Linked DNA regions of Homo sapiens. The protein of the gene in region 1 interacts with the protein of each later gene in a biochemical or structural test. Each region holds a gene or a part of one and is shown in the gene's direction. Other genes may lie near its edges. The genes, in order: DRD2 and DISC1.

Evidence for each region.
Region 2: the proteins of DRD2 (region 1) and DISC1 interact in a biophysical measurement, tested with the Homo sapiens proteins (one study listed by IntAct).

Annotation. Positions count from the first base shown.
Region 1 is NC_000011.10:113,409,287-113,413,103, reverse strand, and holds the end of DRD2 (D(2) dopamine receptor), read left to right. Parts: intron 1-220; coding exon 221-548; intron 549-2,183; coding exon 2,184-2,377; 3' UTR 2,378-3,499; downstream 3,500-3,817. UniProt on the Homo sapiens protein: Dopamine receptor whose activity is mediated by G proteins which inhibit adenylyl cyclase. Positively regulates postnatal regression of retinal hyaloid vessels via suppression of VEGFR2/KDR activity, downstream of OPN5.
Region 2 is NC_000001.11:231,629,790-231,633,606, forward strand, and holds part of DISC1 (disrupted in schizophrenia 1 protein), read left to right. Parts: intron 1-3,817. UniProt on the Homo sapiens protein: Involved in the regulation of multiple aspects of embryonic and adult neurogenesis. Required for neural progenitor proliferation in the ventrical/subventrical zone during embryonic brain development and in the adult dentate gyrus of the hippocampus.

The DNA of each region.
Region 1 (3,817 bases):
TGCATGAGGATTGCCATGGGAAAAAGGACAGGGGCAATCCTGCAGGGGCTGCCATGGGTCCTGGGTCCCATGCCTCAGTGACATCCTTGCCTCCCTGGCAGGGTGACCCTGTGGTGTTTGCAGGAGTCTTCAGAGGGGGAAAGGGAGGGGCCAGTGAGATGGGTGGCTGATGCCTGGGAACTTGTCCGGCTTTACCCAGAGCCCTCTGCCTCTGGTGCAGGAGGCTGCCCGGCGAGCCCAGGAGCTGGAGATGGAGATGCTCTCCAGCACCAGCCCACCCGAGAGGACCCGGTACAGCCCCATCCCACCCAGCCACCACCAGCTGACTCTCCCCGACCCGTCCCACCATGGTCTCCACAGCACTCCCGACAGCCCCGCCAAACCAGAGAAGAATGGGCATGCCAAAGACCACCCCAAGATTGCCAAGATCTTTGAGATCCAGACCATGCCCAATGGCAAAACCCGGACCTCCCTCAAGACCATGAGCCGTAGGAAGCTCTCCCAGCAGAAGGAGAAGAAAGCCACTCAGATGCTCGCCATTGTTCTCGGTGAGTCGGCCCTGGCTGCTGGCCACAGCCCGGTCTGTGAAAGGTCCCATTCCCTGCCATGTCCTTCCTAACCATGGCTGCAGGATCATGGGGCTAGCATTTCCTCAGGCACAGGCCAAGCCCATTGACATACAGACAGCCCTATTAGGTAGATTCTGTAATTGTGCTCACTTTACAGATGGGCAAACAGAGTTTTAGAGTGGTTATAAAACCTGACCAAGAGGACCCATGGTTTGAACTCAGGCAGTCTGACTCCAGAGTCTGGAAATTTGACTAGTCTATTATGCTGGCACCAGAACCTCATGGGCCTATGTGCCCAGGAAAGTCACTTTCTCTCTCTAGGCTCCTCATCTGTAGAGTAGGTTACTTCTCAGGGCTGTCATGGCAATCAGTTGGTGAAAGCATTTTCTAAACTACAAAGCACTATCCATATGTAAGTGTCACTATTATGGTTTTTATTACTATTGCTCTTTTTGAGGAATTGGGAAATTCAGTTCACTTGCACTCAAACAAGACTCCATGGGACCAGAGCTGTGAAAAATAAATGAGATGTTGGGGAGTGGCCCCCAATCTAAATGAAAAGCATCCCTGTCCATAAAGCAGGATTTTTCAATAGAAGTCTAGAAAACCACATAGTAAAGGTCAAAACCCAAAAGGTGGACTGATATGGGTGGCTGGGAAAAGGAGGGTCCCCTGTGACTCTGTCTTCCAGGAAGCACCTGAATCCCCTTTGACTGCCGGATGATCCTGGGGCGTGAGTGGGGCAGCTGTTACCTCCCTTCTTTTATGAATGAGAGCACTTGATCCCATGGGACTACTCACGATCATGGGACTGGGATATGGTAGGCTAGGATTGGAGCCAGGCCCTCTGCTGCAGTCCATAGGGGCTCAGCTCTGTGGCCCTACTCTTCCCAGACACCATTCAGTCTCCAGGGATGCCTCCTGTGCCTGTAGGGCATTCCATGTACACATTGCTTCCAGGATAAATATCACACCTGTGCAGGAGGTCCTGGAAAAAGTGCACCTGAGTTAGGTGAGCAGAGCAGGTAGGTGGCTGCCCTGGGTGAGAGGGCATGGTTCAAGGCAGGGACTAGCAAGGGTGTACCCACCAAGACTGGGGAAATTGGGGGAAGGCTAGAGCGAGATCATCTGGGGACCTGGATAGACCGGAGTTCAGCTCTCAGCCTCGCTGCTCAAGAGTGAATGACCTTGGGTATATTGCAGAGCTGTTGTGAGTGTTTTTCTTATGTACCTTATGAGGATGCTATAAGAACTAAGTGGCATGGGTCTATAGCCCTCAAAGATGACCTGGAAGTAGAGTAGATATTTCCATTTCTACTGGCTAACCTGGGTCAGAATGGTAACCTTTTGGATTTATTGTTAAACCATGTACCCTTTTCTAGGAGGTGGGAAAGGGACAAATGAGGGAAGTGAGGCTGAAGGAGCTGAAGGGATACTTCACTGCAAATGGGTGTCAGAGGCAGGTCTAGGATCCAAGACCTGGACTCCTCCTACAGTGCTTCTGTGGCTACAGCCCACCGTCTTGGCATACGAGCCAGGGCGCACTGGGTGTGGGTGTTCCCAGCCGTGCCTCCCCGGCTCTGGGGACCAGCCTGACCATGCCCTCTCCCCCAGGCGTGTTCATCATCTGCTGGCTGCCCTTCTTCATCACACACATCCTGAACATACACTGTGACTGCAACATCCCGCCTGTCCTGTACAGCGCCTTCACGTGGCTGGGCTATGTCAACAGCGCCGTGAACCCCATCATCTACACCACCTTCAACATTGAGTTCCGCAAGGCCTTCCTGAAGATCCTCCACTGCTGACTCTGCTGCCTGCCCGCACAGCAGCCTGCTTCCCACCTCCCTGCCCAGGCCGGCCAGCCTCACCCTTGCGAACCGTGAGCAGGAAGGCCTGGGTGGATCGGCCTCCTCTTCACCCCGGCAGGCCCTGCAGTGTTCGCTTGGCTCCATGCTCCTCACTGCCCGCACACCCTCACTCTGCCAGGGCAGTGCTAGTGAGCTGGGCATGGTACCAGCCCTGGGGCTGGGCCCCCCAGCTCAGGGGCAGCTCATAGAGTCCCCCCTCCCACCTCCAGTCCCCCTATCCTTGGCACCAAAGATGCAGCCGCCTTCCTTGACCTTCCTCTGGGGCTCTAGGGTTGCTGGAGCCTGAGTCAGGGCCCAGAGGCTGAGTTTTCTCTTTGTGGGGCTTGGCGTGGAGCAGGCGGTGGGGAGAGATGGACAGTTCACACCCTGCAAGGCCCACAGGAGGCAAGCAAGCTCTCTTGCCGAGGAGCCAGGCAACTTCAGTCCTGGGAGACCCATGTAAATACCAGACTGCAGGTTGGACCCCAGAGATTCCCAAGCCAAAAACCTTAGCTCCCTCCCGCACCCCGATGTGGACCTCTACTTTCCAGGCTAGTCCGGACCCACCTCACCCCGTTACAGCTCCCCAAGTGGTTTCCACATGCTCTGAGAAGAGGAGCCCTCATCTTGAAGGGCCCAGGAGGGTCTATGGGGAGAGGAACTCCTTGGCCTAGCCCACCCTGCTGCCTTCTGACGGCCCTGCAATGTATCCCTTCTCACAGCACATGCTGGCCAGCCTGGGGCCTGGCAGGGAGGTCAGGCCCTGGAACTCTATCTGGGCCTGGGCTAGGGGACATCAGAGGTTCTTTGAGGGACTGCCTCTGCCACACTCTGACGCAAAACCACTTTCCTTTTCTATTCCTTCTGGCCTTTCCTCTCTCCTGTTTCCCTTCCCTTCCACTGCCTCTGCCTTAGAGGAGCCCACGGCTAAGAGGCTGCTGAAAACCATCTGGCCTGGCCTGGCCCTGCCCTGAGGAAGGAGGGGAAGCTGCAGCTTGGGAGAGCCCCTGGGGCCTAGACTCTGTAACATCACTATCCATGCACCAAACTAATAAAACTTTGACGAGTCACCTTCCAGGACCCCTGGGTAGAAGGCAGCAGTGCCACTTCTGTGCTTGGCATTCAAGTATAGCAAGACCCCTGTGTCTGCAGGGTCTAACCCAAGGGAAGCCAGGTTGCCCCCACTGCTCCACCTCCCCTGTTGCAGCTCCTGCTTCCTCTGAAGGACTCATCCTTTGCCCTCTTACCCACCAGGGCAGAGAAGGCTCTGTGGAAAAGGTGGCCTTGGATGCACTGGCATTGCCTGTGTCTGCCTATGTCCCTTGCCCTGTCTTCTGTCCCATGTCAGGATCCCCTTCCTCTAGGGCAGGCTGGGAGAAGCAGGGAAGGCCCTGACCA
Region 2 (3,817 bases), on another chromosome or scaffold:
CTTTTTCTTTTTTTAAAATCTAAAAATTTTGATTGGAGAAGGATTAGAGACTAAATTGTTGATATTTGAATTTTATTGTGGTTTTGGTTAAAGTTTGATGCAGGACCTTCAGAGCAAAGAGAGGGTACAATGGTGACCTTTAAACAATATATATATTTTTTGAGACGGAGTCTCGTTCTGTCGCCAGGCTGGAGTGCAGTGGCACGATCTCGGCTCACTGCAACCTCTGCCTCCTGGGTTCAAGCGATTCTCCTGCCTCAGCCTCTCGAGTAGTGGGATTACAGGCGCCCACCACCACATCCAGCTAATTTTTGTATTTTTAATACAGACAGGGTTTCACCATGTTGATCAGCATGGTCTCGATCTCCTGACCTTGTAATCTGCCCGCCTCAGCCTCCCAAAGTGCTGGGATTACAGGCATGAGCCACTGCGCCGGGCCCTTTAAACAAGATTTAAAGACCAGCACACAAAGTTTCTGAGTACAAAAAAAGGTAATATTTTAGGTTAGGGTCATTAGACCAGAATTAGAATCATTCTTTTTTTTTCTTTTTTTAATTAAAAAAGATGGGGTCTCCTTATTTTGGCCAGATTGACCTTGAGCCTCAAGCAACTTCTGCCTCGACCTCCCAAAGTACCAGGATTACAGATGTGAACCATTGCACCTGGCCAGAATCATTCTTTTGATAATAATGATGGTAATTGAGTTTATATGCTGTGTTCTCATGAATCCAAGCAGAGCCCACTGTTTCCAGAGATTCCCTTGGCAGCCACCCTGGGTTGAGGAGGGTCCCCTCCTGGCACAGCTGGAACCACCGGTGAAGAGCCATTTTTCAGTCAGCACCGTTTAGTAATATAAGACTTTTAGCCTCGAGGAGTCTTCCGTTGTTAGTTCCTAACTTTAATGACTTTGTGGTAAAAATTCCTTAGCGAATGACTTCTGTGCAACAATCATGTAATTTTTAAAATTCCAGATGCTTTAGCCGTTCAGAATCCATTTTTTCTTTCAAAACCAGAGTTCACCAGCTGTTTCTCTTGAGCGAAGACTTTGCAATGAGCTTTCAAATGTTCACACCAAGTAGAAGCAGGAAGGGAGAACTGTGGCTGGGCAATGAATGAAATACTGACATTTAGCTGTAGAAGGTAGGCAGGGGCTCACATGGTGTGCACAGCCCCTTATATGACTACTGGTCCTGTATCTGCTTCCTTTCCCTGCCCCATTTCCCCTTTGGCTTTTTGTCATGACTCAGAAATGGATGCTAGACATTATGGGGCTCCCTCCAGTCACTCGGGTCACTCGTCACAGACTTATAAACAGAATCACAGAACTTATTGTCAGATGAAGCTTCAAAACACCAGTTGGCTAAACTCCTTGTGTTCTGGCAGGTAAGATGTCGGCATCCTTATTTAACAAATGATGCTACTGAGAACTATGTATGCAGAGACATAGTCTCAAAATAAGTGCAGTCATGCCTCGCATAATGACGTTTTGTCAATGTCACATATGTGAGAGTGGTCCCATAAGATTATACTGGGCTGTCAATTTCCTAATGCCTAGTATTTACTATACATTTTAATGTTATTTTGTGTACTTCTACTTAGTAAAAAAAAGTTAACTGTAAACCCGCCTCAGGCAGGTCCTTCAGGAGGTATCAGAAGAAGGCATTGTTGTCATAGGAGATGATGGCTCCATGCGTGTTTTTGCCTTGAAGGCCTTCCAACGGGACAAGGTGTGGAGGTGGAAGGCAGGGATAGTGATGATCCTGACCCTGGGTAGGCCCAGGCTAGTGTGTGTGTTTGTGTCTTAGTTTTTAACAAAAAGTTTGAAAAGTAAAAAAATAAAAATTAAAAATAGGAGCTTATAGGATAATAAGGATATAAAGAAAAAATATTTTTGTACAGCTGCACAATGTATTTGTGTTTTAAGCTGTGTTTTTATAAAAAAGTCAAAAAATTAAAAAAATTTAAAAATTATTATATATAAAGTAAAAAAAGTTATGGTACGCTAAAGATAATTTATTGTTGAGAAAAAAATTTAAATGAATTTAGTATAGCCTAAGTGTACAGCGTTTATAAATACAGTAGCATGAAATTATGTCCTCAACCCTCACGTGCACTCACCACTCACTCACTGACTCACCCAGAGCAACTTCCAGTCCTGCAAGCTCCATGCATGATAAGCCTCCTATAGAGGTGTACCATTTTTCATCTTTTATAGTGTATTTTTACTGTACCTTGTCTATGTTTAGATATGTTTAGATGGAAAAGTACTTACCATTGTGTTACGGCTGCCTACAGTATTCAGTACAGTAACATGCTGCACAGGTTTGTAGCCTAGGAACAGTAGCTATACAATATAGCTTAGGTGTGTCATAGCCTATACCATCTAGGTTTTTGTGAGTACACTCTATGGTGTTTGCATGACAAAATGACCTAATGACACATTTCTCAGAAAGTGTCCCTGTCAATAAGTGATGCATGACTGTGATTGAAATAAGTAGCCCCACATTATTTTTCTCATGTCAACTTCAGGTTAATTTTCCAGCCACGTGGCCTTGTGCTTGCTCATCATAAAAAAATGTGGATAAAATTCTACCTGTTAAGCCACAACATTTGCCTGTCATGGGTGGACATTTACCGTTTATTTTCAGAGTTCAAAGTTTGAACTCTCAGAGAAATGCAAATAAGACAGTAAACTCCTCGAGGTGAGGAATGGCAATCTCTGAAGATAAATCATATATTTATTGTACAGTATTGAATGTTGTAAGTGGCAGTAGAGATCATGTAATCTGGCCTTCTTCTTTTACAGGTGAGAAAAGTGAGAAACAGCAGCAGAGTGATTGTTAGAACCTGGCTCCTCTTCTTTTACTTAGAACTGTTTTCATTAAGTTGTGTTTCATTTCATAGTTCTGTATAATTCATCCCTGCTTAAGATACATTAAATGAATTGAACTGAATCCCTTTTTTTTGAGCTATGATGGCTCTTAAAAACTTAGATTTTCAGCCAGGCGCAGTGGCTCATGCCTGTAATTCCAGCAGTTTGGGAGGCCAAGGTGGGCAGATGACCTGAGGTCAGGAGTTCGAGACCATCCTGGCCAACATGGCAGAAACCCATCTCTACTTAAAATACAAAAATCAGCTGAGCATGGTGGCGTGTGCCTGTAATCCCAGCTACTTGGGAGGCTGAGGCTGGAGAATCGCTTGAACCTGGGAGGCAGAGGTTGCAGTGAGCCAAGATCATGTCACTGCACTCCAGCCTGGGCTACAGAGAGAGACTCCGTCAAAAAAACAAACAAACAAAAAACCACGTAGATTTTCAAGTAATTACTATTGTTACACTAAATGTCAATGGATCCTTAAGAATCTATTTGTTCATGAATTCATTATTTATTCATTCAACGTTTATTGAGTGGCTACTTGGTTCAGAATTAGAATTAGCATGACAGCCACACATTAGAAAGGTATCACTTTTTGACTAAATTAAAAACTTGCTAAAAATAGTTATCCATTGATGGAATAGGCTACCCCGAAAGGCAGAGAGCATTTTGTCATTGGAAGTATGTAGGGCAGTGTGGATGACTCTAGGGTGACTGTCATGAGGGTTCTGCACTGGGGAGGGGGCTGCGTTGGATGATGAATGGGAACCCTTCCAGTGCTAAGATGCTGTGATCGTTGTCCTGCAGGATTGGGATTGTGCAGGATTTGAGCTACTGTGTAAATTTCCTATTCCCTGCTCATTGGGCTTCCACATTTTGCTTCCTTCCCTTGCCCAGGTGGTTCCATTTCAGGAAGCCTAGATAGCTTCTTTGCAGTCATCTGC